Regions from separate parts of the Homo sapiens genome. Here regions 2, 3, 4 and 5 are each linked to region 1. The links come from fine-mapping of genetic effects on gene expression. A gene starts in region 1. Each other region holds a variant in brackets. All regions are shown on one strand. Distances are between the middles of the regions. Region 1 holds the start of C1orf115 (chromosome 1 open reading frame 115). Region 2 overlaps MTARC1 (mitochondrial amidoxime reducing component 1). Region 3 has its middle 28 kb from the start of C1orf115. Region 4 has its middle 15 kb from the start of MTARC2. Region 5 holds the start of MTARC2 (mitochondrial amidoxime reducing component 2).

Region 1 (5,106 bases):
CACTGTTAAAAACACAGATTTGAGAAATGAAATGCAAAGAAACATAAAATATCTCTCAACCACTATTTCAGTGTCATTTAAGAGAGTGCATTTGGAATTCTTTGATCTGAGTAGAGCTTTCTACCCAACTACTCTCTCAGAGGGGAGCTGGGGTCTCGGGGAACAAAGAGGGGTCACCTGCTTTATATCTCCATGTTTGAGCCTGGTGACCCTCTCAGGTGGCTCCAAGAAAGTAGAAGCTGAAGTCACTTTTGAAGGGCAGAAAGGAGAGATCCAACCCTAACCTGACGACATCCTCTCACCTGGCCTCCTGGGTCCATTGAACTAGCGTGCAACACTCTAGAGCTTTCATGCCCACAGCTGGGCTTGTGATGGCCCCTCTACCTGAGATGACACCACTTCTCTATCCACTGAAATCTTGTTTTTTTTGTTTGTTTTAGTTAAGGCAAAATTCACATAACATAAAATTCACCATTTTAAAGTGCGTACAGCCCGGTGGCATTTAGTACATTTACATTGTTGTGCAACCACCACTTCTATCTAGTTCCAAAACATTTTCATCATCCCCAGGAAAAAACACATTACCCATTAAGCAGATGGGCTCCATTCCTCTTTCCCGCAGTCCCTGGCAACCACCAATCTGTGTTCCATCTCCATGGGTTGACCTATCCTAAGCATTCCATACAAATGGAATCATACGCACAATATGTGATCTTGCGGGTCTTGTTTACTTCACTTAGCATAATATTTTTAGAGGTTCATCATATTGTAGCATGGATTAGTACATTTCCTTCCTTTTATGGCTGAATACTATTCCATTGTATGTATATAACACACTTGTTTATGCATTCATCCATTTAGGGACATTTGGGTTGTTTCCACCTTTTGACTATTGTAAATAATAATTCCATTAAAATGTGTATATAAACATTGATTTGAGTACCTGTTTTCAATTCTTTGGTTACATCCCTAGGAGTGGAACTGCTAGATCACAGAATAAGTCTACACTGAACTTTTTAAGGAACTCCCAAATTGTTTTCCACAGCAGCTGTCCCATTTTACATTCCCACCAGCAATGTACAATGGTTCCAATTTCTCTACATTCTCGCCAACATTTGTTATTCGGTTTGTTTGGACATTTTTTGGAGTAGCCGTTCTAGTGGGGATGAAGTGTGCCTACTTCATACCACTTCACTGTTATCTGGTGAAATCTTAACTCATCCTTCTGTGCCCAGTTTTCATGTCACCGTGATTTGAAAACTTCCCTGAGTTTACAAGCTCACCGCTGAGGAGTGAACTGCCTGAGCTCTGTGCCCTGAAGCCCCCCCGGGGGCGGGGGGAGCCAGCTATGTCAGTGTCTCCCTGGGAGGCTGTGCCCTTCTCTAGGGCAGGGCTGCACTGTATTCATTTTCGCATCTCTACTGCTCAGCACAATGCCTGACGCATAATGAGTGCCCCCAAAATATCTTCAAGTCCTAGTCCTTGAGCTGAGGTTTCTGCAGTATCAGTTCACCAATGGAGAGGGACATGATGGCTTCTTTGTGCTCAACTGGGACCCAAAGCAGAGATGAATCGTCCTAGCAGGGCTCTAAGCCTGAAAGACCCAACTTTATAGTTTTACCCCTGCCTGTATTCTGCTCCAGAAGCTGCTGACATACCTTTAAAGAGGATGATAAACCTAAGCTCCCAGGCATGGAGACTGAATGGCTTCAGGTGTAAGACGGCATTGGGCAACACAGATAAATAGACAATAAATCAGATGGGGCCCGTGGCCTTTGGCCAGGACACAGTAACTTCTGTGACTTTATTCTGGGTGGCCTTGTCCAGGCCAGCAGAGCTTCCGGCAGCAGCTTCGACTGTTTCCATGCAGAGACACCTGGGAACTGCATCTGCGCTTTGATTTCCGCGAAGGAAACTGTCATTTTCTCCCATATTCATTCTTCCTAACCCCATCTCCCCGAGACAAACGGCAGAATGTTTTGAAGGCCCCAGAGTACACTGATAGTTGGCTAGACGAGAAAAATTCAACGAGCGCCTATTTATGTATTTGTTGCGCTCCCAGGCTCGGGAAATAACCTTGGGAATATTTGGGAGAGTAACCCAAACATTTCTCAACTAGTGGGATATCCTGGAGGGGATGTTACTGGAAAACAAATACACTGGGTTGCAATTTCTTTCTTTCCAACTGGGCCACCTTCTCCAAGTCACCTGCCGCGCTAACGCTTCAGTATTCCCATCTGTAATCAGGAAACTGATTCCTGATCTTACATAAAAACCACCGCGGTAGGAGCCCCTTGAGAATGTTCTTAAGAAGCCAGGAGCGCAATAGCAGGCACAGCAGGGACCACCCAGCGCAACCCCCGATTTAAGTTTCTATCACGACTCGCAACTCGCGGCTTCCCTCCGGCGAGGGAATGGGAGCGGGGGCGGAGGGGTCGCAGGTGCAGCCCGGAGAAACTGGGTGAGTCGATGGTAAGGACCCGGCTCCCGCTCCCCCGCGGGACACCACACCCGCGCCCCCCGGGCAGTGGTGGCGCAGGGCCCCTACCTTGCCGTACTTCTTCAGCTTCCTCCGGTACCTCTTCCTGGGCTGCTCGCTCGGCGCCGGCTCCTCCAGTGGCTCGTAGCGCTCGGGCAGGAGGGCGAAGTGCACCCTCCGCGCGCCCCGGGTCCCCGGGCCCCGCTCGTCCGCCGCGCTCGTCCCGCTCTCGGCCGCCGCCTCCGCCTCGTCCGCGTACTCCAGGTGCTCCAGGATGGCGGCCGCCTCCTCGTCCCCCTCGGTTCGCCCTCGCCCTCGGGGCCCGCGGCGCAGGAGGCTGCTCTCCGCCTTGCTTCGGAGCCTGGCTCCCACCGTCATGATGTCCCGGCCCCTCTGGCGAAGGTCCGAGCGCAAAGACACCAACCTTTGGTCCCCGCCCGCTCCTCCGCCCCAGCCCGGACGGGGCGGGGGATTGGGGGGGCCGCAGCGCCCCCTGGCCGTGGGGCCCGGGATAGCGTTGGCTCCGCTCCGAACTGGCCTACCAGGCGGCGGGCGCGCTCCGCCAGCCCCGCCCTTCATCCCACCTGCCGGCCAAACTGTGCAGACTACGGCGCGCACTGCACAATGAACATGCAAAACACCTTCAACTGCACTTGCTACGAAATTAATGACCCCAAATAATAGGACTCCATCTGCTCATGTTCAAATTAGCAACGATGGAAAATGATACTAGAGATCACGCTCAGTGCTAGGGAGGGCATGGCGAGATAGTCACGGTAACAGGATTCGTGGGAGTGCAAATTGGTGGCAAGGTTTTGGAGAGACGATCAGAAAATCTTTATCGTGAGTCTTAGGAAACGTCCGTATTCTAGGAAATATTCGGAAACGCAAGACAGTGTGTCCACGGTGTTCAACGGTCTGACTCAGTGAAAAAGTGGAGCAAACCAACAGGGAGGCGCAAAGGAAATTCTGGTGCAGACATGCCAGCATATGGCGCAGTCTTTAAAATCATGATTTTCAGGAATATCTCTCTGTGAGATAAGCATTATCAGTGTACTGTGAATCTCAACAAGCTGAGAGTGCCCTATTTTCTTAAGTGGGTAAATGCCTTTGAATTCTGGCTAATGTAGAATTAAGGGCCGAAAGCAGTGGCTCACGCCTGTAATCCCAGCACTTTGAGAGGCCGGGAGGATAGCTTCAGCCCAGGAGTTGGGGAACAGCCTGGGCAACATAGTGAGACCTCCATCTCTAGAAAAAAAAAAAAAAATTAGCCAGGCGTAGGGGCGCACACCTGTGATCCCAGCTATTCAGGAGGATCGCTTGGGCCTGGGAGTTTGAGACTAGCCTGGGCAACACAGGGAGACCTCATCTCTAGAAATAGAAAAACAAATACAAAAGTTTACCTGTAGTCCCAGTGAGGTAGGGAGATCGCTTGATCCTGGAAGGTGGAGATTGCAGTGAGCTATGATTGTGCCACTGCGCTCCAAAGGGGTCGACAGAGTGAGATCCCATCTCAAAAAAATACTTAGGTATAAAATAACATAGATTGTTAGATACACTGATATTTTAACATTAAAGTTTGTGATTAAATTTAAGAATAACGTGTATATGTTGGTATAAGCACATACAATGTTTACGACAATTTAGTTCACTAGGATGCAAAAGAAATTAGTTTTGTGATTCCAACTTAAAATGTGAGCCAGCATGGTGACTTTCACCTGTAATCCCAGCAACTCCACAGGCTGTGGTGGGAGGATCCCTTGAGGCTAGGAGTTCTGAGCAACGTAGGCCCCATTTCTAAAAAAGTGAAAATGTGTGGCTCGGTGCGGTGACTCACACCTGTAATCCCAACACTTTGGGAGACCAAGGCGGTGGATCACCTGAGGTCAGGAGTTCGAGACCAGCCTGGCCAATATAGTGAAACCCTGTCTCTACTAAAAATACAAAAATTAGCCAGGCATGGTGGCGTGCTCCTGTAGTCTCAGCTATTCGGCAGGCTGAGGAGGAGAATCGCTTAAACCCAAGAGGCAGAGGTTGCAGTGAGCGGAGATCGTGCCACGGCACTCCAGCCTGGGCAACAGAGTGAGACTCTGTCTCAAAAAAAAAAAAAAAAGTAATCAGCTAATTGATTTACGCTTTTATTTAACTTATGTAATAAGGTAATAAGTAATGACTTATATTTAATCTTAAAAACATAGAGTCTTTATATGTAAAATAGTATATAAAATTTATGTACAATTCAATTTCAGGTGAAATGGGTATGAAAATGAATTTAACTTACTATATTTATAAGAATTACTTAGAGTTTTGTTATAGAATTGAAGTACTTGAAAAGAAAGTCAAATATTAAATTTGTAAAAGTTGCTTGAAATGTTTAGGAGAATTAACTAAACAGTAAAAGTGCCTCCTTACAGTAATTGTAAAATTTTATCGGGTGAGTAAATAGTTTAAAACAGTATGTAATTTGAATTTAAAAGGTTAAGAGAAAGTAGATTTGTAGATTTGTAATTTTGCTAAAGCAACTATTACTTTATAAACAAACAGAGACCCTTGTAGTCCCTTTTTTTTTTGTACAAAACCGACCTCAAAGAACCCTAGGCTGCTTATCAAATGGTGATATAGTTTGG
Region 2 (5,106 bases), 110 kb before region 1:
CACACAGGGGCAGCAACCCACTCGATGATGGGTGAATTACTAAAAACAAGGCCGGCTCAGCCACCATTGTGTTACCGCCCAGCTTCACATACAGAATGTTCTCAACTAGGGAACACTCAGAGATAGAGAGAGAGATACGGGTTTTTAGAGTAAGACTCAATTGAAAGAAATCTCCGAGATCTGAAGTTCTACTCTGGGCCATCTCCTCTTCTCCTGTCATCCGAATCTTACTGTCACAGAATTTTGGGGTGGAAATGGCTTCAGCATGACCCTCGGTGCACAAATCACACAGGGGAGAAAGAAAGCTTAAAGTCGATCATAGGGAAAAAGCTGGTACCTGAGCCAAACTCCCAGGAATGAAACTCTTCCTTACCTCCCTGTGGTACTTAATGTCCTAGAACTTTTCCACAAATTGTCATCGACCTTGATTCTCACAGCTCCCATCAGGCGAGGGAGTCATTGAAACTGCCCGTGTTTTACAACTGCAAGAAGCAGATGCCTCGGCGAGTTTGGTGACCTGTCCAGGCTTGTACGGTCACTTGCGGAAGCAGGTGGATTAGAATCCAGCTGTCCCAGCCCCATACATATGCCCTAGAATTCTCAGGGTTCCTCTGGCCTTGTACAATTGGGGTTCAAAACCCAGCCCCTCCTTGCTGTGGTATAGCCTAGGGCAGGCCACCTCACCTCCCCAAGCCTCTCTCTTCTCTCCTGTAAGATAGGAATGATAGCTTTATCCCGCTGGGCTGCCGTGAGGCATAGAAGAGACAACATACTTAAGCGCAACACAAGTATTCATTCAAAACCCTCCCCACTCATTTCTCTTTTCCTGAGAAGGAACGTTCTCAGGAGAAATGGCTCTCCTAGCCATAGCTGGTGGAAGATGAATATCAAGGAGATGGTCAAAGGCAACCAAACACTGATTATTTTCCTGTTGTCTAAGTCAGGCTGGCCCATGGTGCACAGGAGCAGGACAGGCAGAAATTTCTTGTCACAAAGAAGCACTGAGAGATGCCCAACCCAGGACCTTGGGGGACATGCACACAGTCCACCCGCCTCACACTAGGAAGTTCTCCACCATCTTTAGAAGAAACGCTACCCTTGGAAGTTTGGAGCAATGAGTATTTTATATGAAGCATTAGCAGTGGATTTGGGCGTACTTTTATTATCCTCCATCGATTGATATTGCTTTTATACATCTCATAAATTACATTATCCAAACTGACCCTTCAACAGACCCTTAAGGTAACCCTAGGCAGAAATATGATCATCTCATTGTTCAGGCAAGGTAAATGGGACTTAGCGGGGCTGCTCAAAGTCATGCAGAAGCCAGTGCAGAAGCTGAAACCAGCCGTCACATCTTCTGGTTTGAATGTGGGAATCAAATTCTTAGATTATTTCTCTTTCAGCATAGTTTTGCCTCCGTACAGCAAAAGTGAAGAATATAATTGGCTCCTCTGAGGATAAAAGGTTAAAACTCAATTGCTTTGATTCCATTTTTCCCTGTTATGGAGGAAATGGGCAGACGTAAGAACCACTATATGGTCCCCTTTACCTCTCCCTTCTCAACATAAATTTGAGGCACAACCAGAGCTCCTGAATTCCTAGCTGTGGGTCAGGGTTTCTGTTGAGTATCCACAGCTGGTGGCCACTCACCATGCCTCTAGGCCACCAACCTCTGCCTTCATGGAAGCCCAGGGAGAGAATCAAGTTAAATAGCCAAAGGCCATTTATTACAAAGGTAAATTTGCTGCCAGAATCCTGTGGAATCCCAGAAACCAAGCCTCAGGGCTGTTCAAGCTAAGTCACCACGCAAACATCTGAGGGCAGATGGAAGGTGGCACTGCAAGCATTTCAGGGTAGTGCCATGAAGCTTAGGGGCAACAACCTCTCCCAACCCTCACCCAGCAGCCTTGCAGTAAATGCCTGTCTTCTCCAAGAGAGCCGTCTACTAAACAGTAAGACCATCCTTTAACAAGACAGGAGCACACACTTTCTTTGTTCCATGGCCCACACAGATCATGTAGTCTATGCAAGAAAATGTGACTCAACAACGAACCTGTCAACTCAGAATTCTCCTTAGAAGCCTTAGATACTGAACTGCCTCCTTGATGACAGTCTCTGACCCATCAACATTTGTATCCTCCACACAGAAGTCTGCACTTATTAAGTGCTGAATAAATCTAAAAATCAAATTGTTATGTATTACAGAGTTGATAAATAATGCACCCTTCAGAATAATCTAATCCAATGTCAAAGACTCTCATACCTTAAAAAAGAAGTCAAATCCAAGGAAAGATCCAAAGGGGCATAGTGTTACCTCTGCATAGACATCGCATCCTGAAATTACAATATTGGGCCTGAAGTTGGTTGCTTTAACTTTCTTCTCTAGCCTGGAGTTGAGATCCGCCAGCGACGCCTCAGAAAGGATCAAGAATGGGCTGGTGTCTGAGTAAGCAATCTGATAAGGAAATAGACATTGTTATAACACATGGCACACCAACTTTTCAGTGGTTAGGTGTGCCTAGTTCCTAGACATAGCCTCCATGCTCCACCCCACCCCACACACAATCTTTCAAAGTAGTTCTCTTGTTCTTTTAATAGAAGTCACAGTGACTCAGAAGTTTT[C/A]AATAGCCTTGCAGATAGCAGAAACTGCATGGTGGAATGAAGGGAACAAGGACTCAGAATCAATCCTAAGCTGCCACAAGGCATGTGCCCTTGGGGACATCACTGAACCTTTCTAAGCCTCCCATTTCTCAAATGTTTAATAAGGTGGTTGAGTTTGATGACCTCATTATGTTTGATTTAAATGTTCACTAATTCCATGAATACTTATTTTATGCAACTTACAAATTAATATTTATGTTGACCATAATTTATGCATTTGCTTGTTTCTTTATTTATATATTTTGAGACAGAGACTCCTTGTCACCTGGGCTGTAGTGCAATGGTGCCATCACAGATCACTGCAGCCTCAACTCTCTGGACTCAAGCAATCCTCCCACCTCAGCCTCCTTAGCAGTAAGGACTACAGCATAATTTATTTTTTTTATGGCCATGGTAAAAGCAGTATATGGTACTACAAACCCTGCTTTTATGATGAATCCTTAGAGCTTTATGCCATTAAGGCTGATCATTTGAGTCTGTGTATCTCCATACCCATGCCAACTTGCACAATTGGAATCTGACATACAACTGCAAACTGTAAAAATTCTGGACTCCATGTGCAATTACAGAATGGAATGAAAAAAAGACACTGGTGCAGAACAGTTTTGAAACCCTACTGGCATCAGAATGCTTACACAAATAGGAAGGTAGATGCTCAAGGGCAAAAATTCAAGAGTCCCCCAAACAAAGAAACAAACAATGCTTCCAAGGGAAGGGCTTTATTTCTGCCTACTGCTTGTGATCTGAGCTACCAGAGGGCTGCCCCAGAAAACAACAGAGCCGAGGTCATCAGAGATGCCACCTGAGCCCCCTGATCTGGGGGTGACTGCTTTCTACCCATGGAGGCAGCAGAACCTCTCACCTGGTCCTTGGGTCGGAACAAGTCTGCTATTTGATGAGGACGTCTCGGTCGCATGTGAGGCTCGAAGTGCACCAGGCGGTAGGGCTGTGACTTCAGGAAGCTGGTTATCCACTGGGCGGTGGCCTCGCCACAGTCCCTGCCCTCTATCTCCAGGCCGTGCACTCTGCAGGGGTAGCAGGAGCAAAGGGCAGACATGGCTTTGAAAATCCATGCACCCTAATATGTGCCAGCTATATCAGAAAAGCTGCTCCTAGCTGTAACATTACTGTCATTTCTTAATTATCAGAAGATGTAATTTTAGTCCTGGTCCTGACTCCAAACCTGTGTAAGGCCAAATGAAAATGAAAGCACCCCTTTAAGCATTGCTTTCCTCATTTTAAAAATCAAGTTTTGTACAACTGTGTCTCCCTACCTGGAAGGAATGCAGGGAGGATGAAATGAAATAATATATTTAAAAATGTACTGAGTTCTCCAGAAGAAAACTAATGTATCAGTATAAAGTAAACTTAGAATTACTGCAAAATCTAGTTCACCCAGCTGAATAGCGACCAGAAATCTTTATTCACAGGCCTGGCTATGCTTTGCCAGTATAGTACAGCAACAATATGAAAATGTTCTATAAAGCCTAAAACATTACAGATAATAACTATATATATAACAATCATTAACAATAATATTATATTTATTTAATAATAACAATAATAATCTACTGGATTTGATTGCAAGTTATAACTTTGTAGGATTTGAAGTTCCCACTCCCCAGCACATAGTCCTGTGCAGGGCTGTTTGGCGTTATATGAATTTCACAGCTATGGAGAGGAAAATAAATGCTATGGTGTAGGCCAGTGTTTCACAAAATGCAAGACCATTACCACTGCTGGCATTCAAGATAACTGTAGATGGCACCTGGGTATAGCATTAAATAACAGTGAATTGCACAGAGAGAAATTTCAGTTTAGTGGTAATAAATCTTTACCTTTTAGCAACACTTGATAATCTCCTCTTTTAACAAAGAAAGAACACACCTTAGGTCCAGAGACCTCTGTAGGCAACAGCTTCTAGCTAGAATTTAGTAATGTTTTAGCATATTGAGTGTTGGTTACTTTCTGGCAAATTATATAGGTAGCCATATAAAGTTTGTATACAGGTAGCCATATAAGGTTTATAGGTAGCCACATAAATTTATATATAAACCCATATATATAAATTATATAGGTAGCCATACAAAGCCGTATACTTGGCAAATTATATAGGTAACTACATAAAGTTTCTTTTTTAAATAAATGTGTTTAAGATTAGTTTATAAGCTGAATCAATTTAAAGAGAAATATTAAGTAAACAAGAGTACAGGTGGTTTATGGTTTGGCCTACTATCATCGTGGTGTTATGCAAATGCTGGAAGTTTGAGAAAGCTTAGTGGATCAAGTAAATCTACTTGGGTGAGCATTCCATTTCCACAAATGACTAGCTCCATGGCCTTGGTGATAGTTTCTTATTCTGAGACTCAGTTTCTTCATCAATAAAATGGGGGTAGAAGCAGAACTTTGTTGTGAGGATTAGGAACAATCCGTAAGAAGTCC
Region 3 (5,106 bases), 27 kb before region 1:
TAAAACTTGCTTAAACTTTCAAAACAATAATTTTTTTAACCTTTTACTGTAGGTAAAAATCCACATTCTTATGCCTCCTTATATTCCTTTTACCAAAGGTATATTTTACTTTTCTTATACACCTTGCACATAAAACTGTTTCTTCAATACTACTCAGGAGGCCTTATTGCTTTTTAAATTATACAACATTTTTTGCATAAAATTTTTTTATAACCTTTTTTCTTTCATGACTTTCACAGACAATTCTTCGACATGTCTCAACTTTCTGACTTATTATAAACATTTCTTTCTTTAAACAACCAGTTAATTTATTTCAGGACAAGAATTTACCATATAACACTCTTTTATGTAAATTCTGCCTCCCCCTTTTTTTCCTTTTTTCTTTTTTTGAAGATAACCATTCTTTTTTTTTTTTTTAAAGCGAACTTTCTTTATGTCTGTGGACTAGATTGTCTACGGCCACAAGATTAGAAGTTACTGTAATACATGTTACACTGTTAACTTTAGCAAACTTTACTTTTGTTGAAAACCTTGTAAGTTTGGGATTTCAGTTATCCTTTGCTATTAATAAGACCTCGTTTAGTCTAAATTAACTTAGAATTAGTATAGATGGCCCTTTTTTTTCCCGTTAGCAAAGCAGCTGCCGCTACAGATTGAAGGCATCTGGGCCATCCACGGGTTACTGGATTAAGGATTTTTGATAGGAAGACCTCAGTGCTTTCGGGATATGCCCTTGTTTACACTGACAACAAAGTGGTATTAGAGTGTTACAGGGTTATGGAGAATACCTTTAATTATCAATTATAGGTTTTAAATTTACCTTGGCTTTTAAAGGAATAGGGTATACTGTTTTTTTCTTAACTACTTGTATATTTCTCTTTCTCTTTTTCTTTCTTTCTTTGACTTTCTCTCTCTCTCTCTCTCTCTTTGACTTTCCTTTTGCCTCTGTCTCTTCCTCTCTTTCTGCCTCTCTCTCTGCCTCTCTCTTTTCTTGACTCCTTCTTTGTCTCTCTGTCTCTTCCTCTCTCTCTTTGCCTCTTTTTCTCTCTGTCTCTTTCCTCTCTTTCTCTCTGCTGGTCTTTCCTTGCCTCTGCCAGCCGCTTATGCTGCTGTTCACTTAACTACTGTTTTGGGAAAGGGGGTCTAAAACCAGCTGTAACTAAGTGTCTCTGTACGGAAACTGGTCTGGTTGCCCTGCCTTGCAGGTTACCTTGTGCCATACCTTTGAAACAAGGGACCTGTCCAGGCTTCCTTCTGATGGCCAACACACCTCTAATGCTGGCCAGTCTATTTCACACAAAGTTCTAAGTTTTCCTGGTGTCATAGTAACACCGTAATCTCCCTTAAATCTTTTCTTGAATTTTTTCGACATAGTTCCTAGCGGGGTGGGCTTATTTGTGCCTGACCCATGCTTCTTCAAGACAAAACACCACACTCACACCACACATACACCACAAAACAAAGAACAGGTAAAAAGGGCACACACACACTTTTGCGGTTTACACCAAACCAAAATCAAAACCAAAATCAGAGTATCCAGAAATCCAGGCCAGGTCAAAACCAGAACCAAAGTATCAAGCAACCTAAGTCAAGTCAAAAACAAAAACCAAAGTGCCGGTACAGGCACACCGTGGGTGATCAGGCCACACTTCCACTCAAATGGAGTGGGCAAGTTCCGAAGACCAGTCCTATCAAGCAATTCAAACCAAGTCAAAACCAATACCAAAGTGCTGATAAAGGCACACCATGGGTGATCAGGCCATGCTTCCACTCAAATGGAGTGGGCAAGTTCCAAAGACTAGTCTTACCAAGTTTCAGATATCCAGACTCCAAGCGCCAGTTCCTTCCCGGTGTTCAGCCACTGCGTTGATCCTCCACAGGGGCGTGCCACACACTGCTCTGGTGAGGTGTCCCACCGGGGCAAATGCCTACCCGGGAGCACTCTCAGGATCCGTGTCGCTCCGGCTGGTTGGAGTCCCCCTCAGGGATGTTCCACAGGGCAGGCTAAAGCTGCCTAAGGAGCTGCCTTGACCGTCCATTAATCACCTCGCTTCCTGGTCAGAGAACCAAGAAATGTAGCAGGACCAGCCATGGAAAAAACCCCTCAGACACCGAGACACTGAAGGGAATGGCTTTAATCAGCTGGGAGTATCGGCAGACTAGCGTCTTAAAATCCGAGCTCGTCAGGTGCTCAACTTCTGTCCCTTTTAAGGGCTCACAACTCTAAGGAGGTCCACGTGAGAGGGTCGTGATCAATTGAGCAAGCCGGGGGCTGCGTGACAGGGGCTGCAAGCACCAGTGGTCAGAGTGAAACAGAACAGAACGGGAGGTTTCACAACGTCCTTCCATACTGTGTCTGGAATCTATAGATAACAACAGTTGCTAGGTCAGGTGTCGATCTTTAACTACCCAGCTTAGGTCAGGCAGGCCCAGGCCTGGTTTCAGATCTGGTTCCTTGGTTTTGGGTCTGGTTCCTAGGCGCCAGGCTACCTGCCTTTAGTTT[C/T]GCTTCTCTTTCCTTTTCTGAGTGTAAAACAATATCAAACAATAGGAGAGGGTCTCTCTCTTCCCTCAGTATGAAACAGTGTTTGGTTTTCTTTGGGCCATATTTGTGTAAATATGTTATTTGTATGTGTTCCAAAATTATGGGCAACTCCTGTAATTCTGATATGACTAAGTGTACATTATCAGTAATAATCATAATTGTCACGTTAAAATTATTATGTGCCACAAAGGTAACAAACTTTCTTGCCAATTGTGTCTTTGACTATGGTGGCCCTAAAACATTTTGTCATCCACAGACAATTGTTCTCTTGCTTTGGTACTGTTTAGACAGTTGTTTTATAATCAGCTATAACTGGTGCCCTTGAATGCAGGTTTCTAATAACTTTGGAGATTGTGACATCAGAACAGTGGAAAAAGGGGCACAGCTTGGTTTTATACATTTTAGGGAGATACGAGGCATCAATCAATATATGTAAAAAGTGTATTGGTTCCATCCGGAAAGACGGGGACAACTCGAAGCAAGGAAGGGGGCTTCCAGGTCACAGGGAGGTGGGAGACAAAGGGTTACATCCTTCTGAATTTCTGATAAGCGTTTCCAAAGGAGGCAATCACATACGCATCTATCTCAGTGAGCAGAGGGATGACTTTGAATAGAATGGGAAGCAAGTTTGCCCTGACCAGTTCCCAGCTTGACTTTTACCTTTAGTTCAGTAATTTGGGGGCCCCAAGATTTTCCTTTCACACTTCCCCCCTATTCTTTTTTAAAATCTTTTAGAGAAAGTATTTTAGAAGAAAATGAGTCTCTGATTTCAGGTTTCATCTGATCTCTCATGGCAAGGATGGTTTATTCCTAGACAGGTAGGTCCCAAAAGTTCATTTTTAGCAGGTTATGAAGTCTCATGTCCTATAAAGAGAAAATAAGGGGAGGAAGGGAGAAAAACAACAGCAAACAAAAGAATGATCCTGGAAAGTGGCTTATGTATGTAAATGGGATGCTGTTATTTTCTTCTGAAGTTTAAGTTGTCTAGCTTCAGTTTGCAGGGCTTTAAGAAACACAGCTTAGTTTTCAGTGATTTCAAATTAGGAAAAATTGGGGAAAAAAAGAAAAGAAAGAAAAAAAATATTGAAAATGTTATTTTGTAGACTTGTAGCCAGGAAAAATTAGAGTTCAGCCCAAACTGTAGAAAATAATAAAAATTGAAAAACATTAGGCAAGACTAGAATCTAACAACAAGTGTACTATAGTTTTTGAAACATATTTTTTCTCTCTCTCCAGTTTCCCATTTTCACTAAAGACAAATCATGGTAGGACCAACCTGCTTTATTTTACCTGTCCAGATTATTTGTATAAAGTACAGCAAGAATAATTATTTTTCACATAGGCTTTTTAAAATTGGCTTTGATGAAACTTTGTTCCATAGAAGAAATATCAAGACATTTTTAAAGCCGAACCCCGCGATGGATTTGTGCCACCACCAAATACCTATGAGTTGGGTGAATTACCTCTCCTCTTGAGGTTCCAAGATAAACCTAGGGCTCCTGGGCCTGTCAGAAGGTGACATTCTTTACTAACGACAGGTCAGAAACCCTGTACAGGGACTCTGTAGACAAAGTATGAGGCCAGTTTTCCCAAGGGCTTTTATTGGCTGCATAAGTCAGGTTTTATTCCTTAAGGAAAGCATGCCATTCCAGTCAAAGCCTTGGTAAAATAACCAGTTTCTCCAATTGTGTCCTCTTACAAATGAGAACAGATTCTTATTGCACTTATGCAAATAACTGTATTGTCGTAAGTTAAGAATACTCACAAATAGTTTCCAAATTCTTCAGAAATCAGGTAGAGAGAAACAAATATGCTCCAAATTTTGTTCATAGGAGTGTACTCAATTGTTAAAAGCTGTCAATAGCTCAAAAGAAAAGTTTCAAGACTCCGAAAAACAAAACAAAGGATCAGCAATGTTTTAAGCAATAAGTCAAAAAGATGAGTACAGTCCATGCAGTTAATTCCTGTTTTGCTTGATATTCACGGACATTTTAGCTCTCCATGAGTCCACCGTGCGCACATGTCATCAGGACTTTGTGTGGTTATATCATGGGCATGCATCCTCAACACTGGCAAAACAAACTTTGTAAATAAACTTTCTAAATTAACTGAGACCCTCTCAGATATTTGGAGTTCACAAATCAAAATTAAAAACTTTTGTACTTCAAAGGACACCATCAAGAAATTGAAAGGACACCCCACAGAGTAGAAGACAATATTGGCACATTATAGATCTTATTATATAAGGGACTTGTATGCAGAATATATAAAGAACTGCTACAACTCAACAATCAGAAAAAGTAACTCAATTTTAAAACAAAGCATTTGAATAGGTAGTACTCCAAGAAGATACATAAATGACCAACATGCATAAGAAAAGACAATCCACATCATTAATCATTAGGGAAACAAAAATTGAACCATGGTGAAATATCACCTCACACCCACTAAGATGGCTATAATAAAAAAGATAACAATAAATGCTGGTGAAGATGTAGATAAACTGGAACCCTCATACATTCCTGATGGTAATGTAAAATGATGTAGCCACTATGGAAAAAAAT
Region 4 (5,106 bases), 43 kb before region 1:
ACTACGCCCAGCCCCTGATGTGATTATTATGCATTGCATGCCTGTATCAAAATATCTCTTGTATCCCATAAAAACATACACCTACTATGTACCCACAAAAATTAAAAATTAAAATAAAAACAGGAGTTTGAGGCTTTAGTGAGCTATAATCATGCCACTGCACTCCAGCCTGGGTGACAAAGCAAGACTGTGTCAAAAACAAAAGTCCCCTTAAAAAAGTGATTGAAAACAAGAAAGGAAGGAAGGAAGGGGGAGAATGAAATGATAAGCTATGTATAGTGATCTTCAAAGTTAAAGAATATTTTTTAACTTGAAACATTAGTAAGTACAATGTTAATTTTTAAAAATCAATGTAGCCTTGTTTAGGGCCTTTAGGGCCTTGTAACAAAAAATATATATACACACACTTATATACATATAGATTTATATGTAATATATTTCTATTTATTTAATATAAATATATATTATATATTTACATTTATTTAATAGAAATATATTATATAAGTACATAGTTATATAGTATAATTAATTATTAATTATAAATATATATTTAGAATATACATAATTTATAGTATATATTTACATATATACATATTTACATATAATACATACTATAAATTATATCTTACATATTATATAAATATAAACATTTATACATATTATACACATGTATAATATGTATCCCTGTGCCGTTTTATCCATTCATAGTGACTAACATCTCTGCATGCCCACAAGTTTCTCTTCCTCCCTGTGAGGATTTGACCTGGGAGAACAAACCAGCTCAGCTCAGGGAGAGTTACTTGTGTATTAGTCGGGCACCTCTTTAGATTGCAAGGAGAAGACACACATTCAGATTAGGTTAGGTTTGGGGGTTGTCATCAGGATACCCAGGGAAGTAATGCCTCAACGGCCAAACGTGTGTCCCAGAACAACATCTGAGGCGGCTAAGAGCTCAAAAGGGCTCCAGGAGAACAAGCACAAGGGTCAGTTGTTGTCCAAGCGTGAGCAACTTTCATTCACGCCCTGCTATACGCTAGATGCTAGTATGTAGTCTTTAATAATGATAGAGGAAGATAGAGTGTCTGATCTTGAGAAGCCAGTAAATCGCTAAGGTAGCATATCGGGAAATAGCCACTTCAATCCTGGCTGGAAAGTAGAGAGCAAAGGCCAGGAGAGAGGAGTGTACTAGGAAGGTAAACAAGCACAGATGGTAGAAAAAATTATACTGCACGCAGAGGAATGTGGACTTCATTCCACATAAGTGAGTAACATCATGTACCAATAAGAAGAGAAACTGGGTGGCTGGAAACATGAATATAATGGAAAGTTTTCATTTGTATACTTAAGCTTTTTGAATTTTGAACTGTGAAAAGTATTACTTGTTCAAAAAATTCAAAAATAAAATTATTTAAAAATCCAATGCAATGATTCTGGTGGTGTACTAGGCTCTGGGAGAGCGAAACAGCAAATATTCCCTATCAGCCTACAATCTACTAGATATTTTTAAAGTTTTATGGCTCATCGGTGACACAACACAGCTTTAGGTAGATTCCCAATATCAAAACATGTGTAAACAAATAATTATAAGAAAAATAGTAATTGTTTTCCTAAAGATATGGGCTTAGAGCTTTGAAAGTGCATGTTGTGGGCTGGGCAGCTTATTCTGCTTGAAGGTTAGTGGGAGGTAACATGTAAACTGGGATACGAAGAACGCATGCATAGGAGCTTCAAAAATGGAAAAGAGAGTAAAAGCAATTAATCAACGAGAAATACAATTTTCCAAAAAAAAAAAGAAATGTTTTTGGAGGAAAATAGTTTCGTATGATGATCGGACCAGCAAAGGGAATGACAGGAGGTGAGGCTAACAGTCGGGATGAGAACAAATTGTGCAGGCTTTGCCTGTTGTCTTAAGAACTATGAATTTCTACCCCAGAAAGCTCAAAAAACCCTTCATGGGCATTGGCATTCTGGAAGTTGGTGAATATGTACCTTTAGGAAAATGGATTTTATCTCCAAATAGTGGGGAAAAAAATTAATGGGAATTTCTTTTTCTATTTTGAGTTTTTTTCCCCATAATTTTTACTGAAACTTTCTGGTTTTATTCTGGTTAATATAGGAAGTTAAGAAAATCAGTATATAGCCAGCAAATATAGATGGGAAAACTCAGAAGCAAGTATGTTAAGAATGTTTGTTCTTTTTTTCTCCTTGTCAAATATGTTCACAGTTGTGATTTTTATATATCATATAAGATATCTTCTGTTACCAGGATCGCTCCTTGTCAATGTGTTGGGATTAACTATCATCAATGTTTCATCTTTTCCACAAGAAATCAAAGCTTCCTGACGGTTTGCAGCCCCCCCACAGCCTGGCCCATAGCTTGTTTTATTTGGCTTACACAGTTGTTTTAATCGGGAAGTGTCTAGCTTGTCTTTTAAAATCAAAATATCTGGCAATATGAGGTCTATATTCAGCATAATGAGAAGCAAACGGACCTGACTGGAGCCTGTCCCCTGTAGGCATCACCGCCCTGTAGGAGCCCCAGTTCCCGCCCACCCAGAGTTCAACCGGACCCCCTCCTTCAGCTTTTGACTTTGGCCCGGGTTAGACGGG[G/A]GATTTCCCGGGCAGTTGCTCCGGATTTACACGAGGGGGCGCTGTGATCAGGGTTTTGGACGGAAGGGTGGGGAGGAAATGCTTGAAGCTGGTTCTAACCGGAAGTGAAAGGAAACCCTCCTTTCCTTTCTGGTGAGTAAGTCCTAAGGAACAACCTCCTGTTACCCAACTCAGTGAAGAGTCGGGACTAAGAGTATTTTGAAATAGGAGGAATACTATATTTGAAATGTCAGAAGTCATAGAAAAGTGTGGGAGAAACAATGCCACACTTTTCTATTTTCCCTGCCATTTGAATAATACTTTGCAGTCTATAAAACTCTGTCGGAAGCAGAAGGCTATTCGGTCCTCACAGCAATCCCATGTCCGAAGTAGGAGAAGGCACTTGCTCCTGCAATAGCCGAGCCACTCAGAGTTCCTCGTCTCACCTAGGAGCGCCTACCCAGCCAGAAAGGGGAGGTCCCATGGCTGCTTCCTCACACTTTCCTTTTTAGGGGAGGAGGAGGAGGGGGAAAGGCCCTGGAGAAGGACAGGGTGCCAAGAATATGTGGCGAGAGGAAGGGACAGGCCAGAAGAAATAAGTTGAGAGATCAGTCCCAGGAAACTTCCTACCTAGAAGATGCCCTTCCTTGGCTGGGACTTGTGCCTCTCCCTGTGTATCTCAGGCACAGTCAATCTCAGTTTGTATTTGTTAAGTAAATAAATTACCCGAGGCATCTGTTGGGTCTTAACCTGTATATGGGAAGGGCCCTGTTATTCCATCAATATTAGTTACAAAATTATGGGGGCTTGGGCTGATGACACTGAGGGTCCGGGGACCTTCTCACCTCTGGTCAACCCTGCCCTGGATGGCCCCTAAGCTCTATCAGTGGCCCTGACTGTGTGTCTTTGTGGCTTTGATTTTGACGATGTTATCAACCAGGATGCAGAATCCTGCTTCCTCTCCCAGTTTTCATTTGCTTTTTTTCTGTGTTTGTTTTCTTTGGCTGCTACAGGGAGATTTGCTTTTCATCTTGGCAGCACGTGCCCCACTCAGAGTGGAAGAAGGCTATGGCAGGATACAGTGTTTTGGGAAGGGAAGAGAATCTCCTTGCTTGGGGACATCCTTTCCAAAACAAATTCCCTGTAAAGTCAAGTCCTGCTAGTGTTTCCCTCCAACCTCTCTGTGTTCTACTACTCGCCCAAGAAAAAAATTATACGAAGTGTCTCCTCACCCATGTTTAGTCACAAAAGACCTCTGTTTCCCAGGCTCCCTTTCATTCTACTTATTCATCAGTTCATCAATTGATTCGTCCATTCATTCATTTATTCTGTGACAGTCTTTACTCTTTCCTAAGTATGACCAGAAAATAATGACGTAAGTATGATCTACTCTACAGCATGTAGGTTGTAAGCATTGTTATGGTCTTTTTTAAAATTAAGATACAACTCACAAAACATAAAATGTACCATTTTAAAGTGTACAATTGTATTTGTCCATTTTCATGCTGCTGATAAAGACATACCCTAGACTGGGTAATTTATAAAGAAGAAGAGGATTGAGGGACTCACAGTTCCATGTGGCTGGAGAGGCCTCACAAACATGGCGGAAGGTGAAAGGCACATCTTACATGACAGCAGGCAAGACAGAGTGAGAGCCAAGCAAAAGGGGAAACCCCCTATAAAACCATCAGATCTTGTGAGACTTATTCACTACCACAAGAACAGTATGGGGAAAACTGCCCCCATGATTCGATTATCTCCCACCGAGTCCCTCCCACAACACGTGGGAATTATGGGAGCTATAATTCAAGATGAGATTTGCGTGGGGACACAACAAAACCATATCAACATTCCATTGTTTTGTAGTATATTCACCCTATTATGCAACGATCACTTCTCATTCCAGAATATTTCTATCACCACAGAAGGAAACCTCATACCTATAGCAGTCAGTCCCAGCTCTGCTCCCCTTATCCCCTGGCAACCACTAATTTGCTTTCTGTCTCTGAGGATTTGCCTATTCTGGACATTTCATATAAATGGAATGACACAATATGTGGCTTTTTGTGTTTGACTTCTTTTATTTAGCATAATGTTTCCATGTTTCATCCCTGAGCATACAGCATATAACAACAGAACATTCCTTTTTATAGCTGAATAATATTTCATCATATGGATAGGCCACATTTTGTTTATCTAGTCATCAGTTGATGAACTTTGTTCTGGCTGTTATTAATAATACTACTATGAACACTCATGTACATATTTTCTTTTCTTTTCTTTTTTTTTTTTTGAGTCAGGCCTTGTTCTGTTGCCCAGGCTGGAGTGCAGTGGCACAATCACAATTCACTGCAGCCTTGACCTCCTGGGCTCAAGCAGTCCTTCCAGCTCAGCCTCCTGAGTAGCTGGGTCTACAGGCACACACCACCACACCTGGCTAATTCTTGTAAGATAACATATTTTCAGTACTCATGGGTCTATATTGGAGTGGATTCATTGGGTCCTGTGCTAATTCTG
Region 5 (5,106 bases), 55 kb before region 1:
ACGGCGGCCAGTCCTAGCGCGGCGACCCCGAGCCACCTGGGCCAGGGCCGGGCTGGGAGGCCGAGGCGGGCCAGCGCGGAGGAGCTGGAAGCGCCCATGGCAGAGCGAGGGCGGGCGCGGACCGGCGCACAGACCCGGCAGCGACCGGAGACCGGGAGGACGAGGAGGCCCTTAAGGATCCGGGCAGGCGAGAGGAGTCAAAGTTGACCCAACTACGGACCCTCTCACACTTTCACCGCCGAGACGGCAGAGCAGTTCCGCGGAGAGCGGGAATGCCTTAATGCGGTGACCAAGCCTGCGCGGTAATGGAGGAAGACAGGCAGACAGCGGCGGGGGTACCCTGGGCGCCGTGGGAGCGACGCCGCCCAAAGCAAGCGAGCTAATGGGGCGGCCTCTGGGGTGGTCAGTGTCTCCTCCCTCTTCCCCGCCCCTACAACACGACAGTTACCCATGCAACATGACCTTCAGCGCCAGCACTCTGCCACCCCCTTCTCTGCTAATACTGCACGCTTAGTCGCTCGACAAGATCACCGCAGAACGTGAAGGCGGGTTGCCCAACGGAGGATTTACAAACATTTGGGAACGACTTTTTCTGGCAGGTCGCTGTGAGAACTGCAGGACTTTCTGCACACAAAGACACAGTCTAAACCTCTGCACTCAAAGACGAGGAACTCTAGCGTGGCTTATAGGAGCATGACTCAAGGTCCCCCACCCTCCGCTGCCGCCTAACCTCGACCCCAGTAAAATGTCTTCCCGAGAAAGCTCAAGGCAGCCAGGAGAATTCCCCGTTTATTCTAGCCAACACCCGATGGTAAAGCCCCTGACCTCCCTTTTTTAGGATATTTTCTTAAAAGGGCTTACAACTGTGAATCCTTTCTCTGTTGCTTTGAGATGTATATGTATCGCCTACACCTCAGAAGTGTCTTTCTCAAGGACCTGAAAGCCATTGCTCTGAAATGCAGTCATGGGGAGGATAGGCCTCTGTCCCCCAGTCTCTGTGGGAGGATAGAATCCCAGCTTCATAACGGCCAGCTCCAGGCACAGCTGCCCGTCATTAATACTGACCGCCCCTTCATGATTTTTCACTTGATCCCCTGCTAGCTTCCCGGCCCTATTCTCTCCTTCACCCTTTAAAACGCCCATTCTGCTATGCACAAATGAGAATGATCAGCTTTTTCTCCTACTGTAAGTAGTTACTGAGTAAAATCTGTTTTCATGGTTTAACTAATGTCTGGCTTTGTTGATCTTTAACACCTCCATTCAAGCAAGCTATTGGGTTAACAGTGGATTTTCTCAGACAAATTAAGGTTTGAAGTCTTTCAAGTTTTTTGTTGTTGTTCTGTTTTTCAAAAGTTTGTCCCTTAAACTGTGGCACAGTTCTAGGAAAGTTTAAGGAGGCCAACCAGTGGGCCACCCCCCAAATCTGGGCTGGCCACCTCCAGAGAAAGGGGCCCGTTCTGGAGTGTGGGAAGAGACTCCGGGAAGGATGGAGAACCAGAGGAGCCAGGTTCCCTTTGGCTGTTCCTTGTGAAAAGTGAAAGACAAAACAGGGCCTGAATCTCTCCCCACCCAGGAAAAAACCTCAGGCCAGCAGAATTAGTCCCTCAATCCCCATACATTTACATCATGCTTGGCAGCTGCGACTTATGGATTTGTTTTTTAAGCATGGTGTGGTGAATGTGATGTGTGTACACTTGTAGCTGACCCCCTTTGCCTCTCCCAACTCCTGAGGAGGGTCAGAGTCCTCCCTGCCCACAAGCCTGCTGTCAGAGTGAGGGGCTTACAAAGCCATCGCCTCGCTATACGTGAGCTCCCAGACAGGGCAAATGTCTTATTGATTAATCATCTCTTTCTTTCACCACATAGATATTGATCATTCACCAGGCTTCGTCCTAGATTGGCACTGGGGATTTAAAGTTTAGAAGAAGCTGCCCTTCCATCCAGTTCACTGACTCCCCAGAAGACTGACACCTCCCCTGCAAGTCTAGAGGATAATGTCAGAGGAGAAGCAAGGTCAAGATGCAGAGGATGCAGAGGCAAAAGAGCAGCTGAATCTCAGGACAGTGCTGTTTTCAGAGGGCGGAGCTTTGGAGCTGAGACTTGAACATGAGGAGGGGCTTGGAGATGGGTAAAGGAGAGGATTCTGGGCAAAAGGAGCAGCACGTGCAATAGCCTGAAAAAATGGAAGGAACAAGAGAGTGTGGCATGTTTGGGCAACCACCAGCAATCCAGCTGTATTAGGATGTACCTGTGCATGCAGCAGGTGGCGGGAGTTGAGGCAGGACAGGTGGGCAGAGGTCAGATCAACAGGCATCTTATCTCTACTTAATGTGGAGACACCTCAGAATTCTGAACAACAGTCTGGCATGATTAGACTTGGGTGCTAGGAAGGCCATTCTGGCTGCTCTGAGAAAGAGTAACACCAAAGATGGTTAGATGAGTTGCAAATGCCCTAGTTCAGGCTGATGTAATTCCAAATCAAGGAAAAATAACAGTGGGGCTGGAGATAGACATGTGGTTAGGAGAGATGGTCAGGGGACAGAATTAACAAGAGATAGTGATGACAGAACACAGAGCCAGAGGGAGAGGAAGAGCCCACGGGGCCTCCTGGCTCTGTGGCATAAAAGTCTGGGGTGGGATGGGGGTACCATTCTCAGAGATTAAGAATTCAAGAGAAGCTGGGCACAGTGGCTCACACCTGTAATCCCAGCACTTTGGGAGGCCGAGGTGGGCGGATCAGGAGGTCAGGATATCGAGACCATCCTGGCTCACATAGTGAAACCCCGTCTCTACTAAAAATACAAAAAATTAGCCAGGCATGGTGGTGGGCATCTGTAGTCCCAGCTACTTGGGAGGCTGAGGCAGGAGAATGGTGTGAACCCAGGAGGCGGAGCTTTCAGTGAGCCGAGATCGCGCCACTGCACTCCAGCCTGGGCGACAGAGAGAGACTCCGTCTCAAAAAAAAAAAAAAGAGAATTCAAGAGAAGAAGATAGTCTGGGAAAAAAGATGATGAGCCT[A/G]TTGTGAACAGCGAGTGAGAGGTATCTTTGAGACATCAAAGAAGAAATAGTTACCTAGATAGATGGGTAACTTGACCTTTCCATGCTTCCACCTCCTCATGTGCAAAATGATGGGGATAGACATCAAGTGAGGAACTTTGCCATGGTGAGTGCTGCCAAGTCTTTGCTGTCTTCACCAGCCATTATCTATCATAGCCTGCCCTGTTTAAGCTTCACCAATGCTGGGGTTGGGGGTGCCTTCAGGGGAGCAGGGAAATTCCTTATCAGTAATGTGTACATTTGCAGCCCAGCATCTTCATTTGTAGAATTAGTGAGGGGTGATGAGAGGCTGTATTAGTCCATTCTCACACTGCTATAATGAAATACCTGAAGCTGGGTCATTTATCAAGAAAAAATGTTTAATTGGCTCATAGTTCTGCAGTCTGTACAGGAAGAACGGCGGCTTCTGCTTCTGGGAGACCTCAGGGAGCTTTTACTCATGGTGGAAGACAAAGCAGCAGTGGATGTCTTACATGATAGGAGCAGGACCCAGAGAGAGGGGGGAGGTTCCACATGCTTTTAAACAGCCAGATCTCATGAGAACTCACTCTCAGGATGATAGCACCAAGGGGAATGGTATTAAACCATGAGAAACCAGCCCCATGATCCAATCACCTCCCAGCAGGCCTTAACTCCAACACTGAGGGTTGCAATTGAACATGAGATTTGGTTGGGGACACAGATCCAAACCATATCAAAGGTTGAGGATTCATGAGTCTAATTGGCTGTTTGCATATCTTTTTTCCCTTCTGATTTGAATCAACTTATCTATTTTTTTGTTAATTTATAAGATCCTTTTATAAATTAAGAAAATTACCCTTTTATCATGCCTTCCCAAGTCATAACTTTTTCCCCTAGTTTGTCATATTTTGGCAACTTCTGCTTAGGAAAAATCTTTCTAGTGAATAAGACATCATTGTCTGCCTAGAGGCACTGACATAGATAAAGAAAACTCTGTCAATTAAAATATCAACCAAGAAACCAGAGAAAAAAAGAAGCCTAAAACCCAAATATTACCTTGCTTAGCCAGGTCCTCTTCAGGAAGGTGAGTACCCAGCAGCCAATGGAAGTATTCATCAGGGCCATGTAGCAGTTTGTCTTTCCTGGGGAGATGAGCACATCAGATTATCAGGCAGTGAGGATAGTCAACCTTCAACCCATATAACAAATCTCATGACGCAGGCTAGGCTAAAATATTGTAACAACCTCAACATCTCAATGCTCTAACAAAATAAAAGTTTATTTCTCACTTACATCCCAGTTTGATGCAGGCCAAACATTAATCAAAGGTCCCCTTAGGCCAGGCCCAGTGGCACACACCTGTAATCCTAGTGCTTTGGGCGACTGAGGCAGGAGGATCACTTGAGCCCAAGAGTTCAAGACCAGCCTGGGCAACATAATGAGACCCTGTTTCTACAAAAAATTTAAAACAACAGAAAAAGAGAGAATGAGGCAGGCATGGTGGTGCATGCTTGTAATACTAGCTACTTTGGACACTGAGGCAGAAGAGCCGCTTAAACTCAGGAGTTTGAATGGATATTAAGCATATATATATAGTGGAAGAAGAACCATGGCTAGGAAGTCAAAATGCCCTAGTGACTATGAAAATCCAGCCACATGACCAGGGCTGAAAGCACCAGATTAGAAACTCAAGCTTGATAGTCAGCACCTTCAGCTTTGAAAGGAAGATGGCATTGGATCTCTCACCTACTTTCCCTTGAACACATAAAACCAAGTGGCAGGGACAGAGCAAGATGTCTGATTAGCAGCCTCTATAGATCATCCTCCATGCAGAGACACCAATTTAACAACTATCTATACTACAAAGTACCTTTATAAGAACCAAAAATCAGGTGAGCAATCAAAGTACCTGGTTTTAACTTCGTATCACTGAAAGGGGCACTGAAGAGGGTAGGAAAGATAGTCTTGAATTGCCAGTACCACCCTCCCCAGTCTCCTGGCAGTGGCCAAGAGAGAGTCTGTGCTCTTGGGGGAGGAAGAGCACAGCGATTGTGGAACTTTGCATTGGAACTCAGTGCTTTCCTATCA

What was found.
Region 2: its variant is fine-mapped to the expression of C1orf115 in atrial appendage (GTEx, PIP above 0.99).
Region 3: its variant is fine-mapped to the expression of C1orf115 in lymphoblastoid cells (GTEx, PIP above 0.99).
Region 4: its variant is fine-mapped to the expression of C1orf115 in whole blood (TOPMed, PIP above 0.99).
Region 5: its variant is fine-mapped to the expression of C1orf115 in whole blood (INTERVAL, PIP above 0.99).

Annotation. Positions count from the first base shown.
Region 1 is chr1:220,688,154-220,693,259 of GRCh38, reverse strand. It overlaps C1orf115 (chromosome 1 open reading frame 115), which reads right to left and starts at 2,897. Exons shown (of 2, transcript NM_024709.5): 1 at 2,549-2,897. The coding sequence starts at 2,857. RefSeq lists a silencer at 2,827-3,066.
Region 2 is chr1:220,795,226-220,800,331 of GRCh38, reverse strand. MTARC1 (mitochondrial amidoxime reducing component 1) reads right to left here. Exons shown (of 7, transcript NM_022746.4): 3 at 3,527-3,689; 4 at 2,318-2,458. Among named protein-coding and RNA genes, the nearest start is that of MTARC1, 11 kb to the right of the region's middle. The variant C/A (reference allele first, on the strand shown) is at 2,626.
Region 3 is chr1:220,715,473-220,720,578 of GRCh38, reverse strand. No RefSeq gene overlaps it. Among named protein-coding and RNA genes, the nearest start is that of C1orf115, 28 kb to the right of the region's middle. The variant C/T (reference allele first, on the strand shown) is at 2,504.
Region 4 is chr1:220,730,797-220,735,902 of GRCh38, reverse strand. No RefSeq gene overlaps it. Among named protein-coding and RNA genes, the nearest start is that of MTARC2, 15 kb to the left of the region's middle. The variant G/A (reference allele first, on the strand shown) is at 2,611.
Region 5 is chr1:220,743,524-220,748,629 of GRCh38, reverse strand. It overlaps MTARC2 (mitochondrial amidoxime reducing component 2), which reads right to left and starts at 308. Exons shown (of 8, transcript NM_017898.5): 1 at 1-308. The coding sequence starts at 98. LOC124904516 (a long non-coding RNA gene) reads left to right here. Exons shown (of 2, transcript XR_007066884.1): 1 at 1-811; 2 at 1,867-4,310. The variant A/G (reference allele first, on the strand shown) is at 3,019.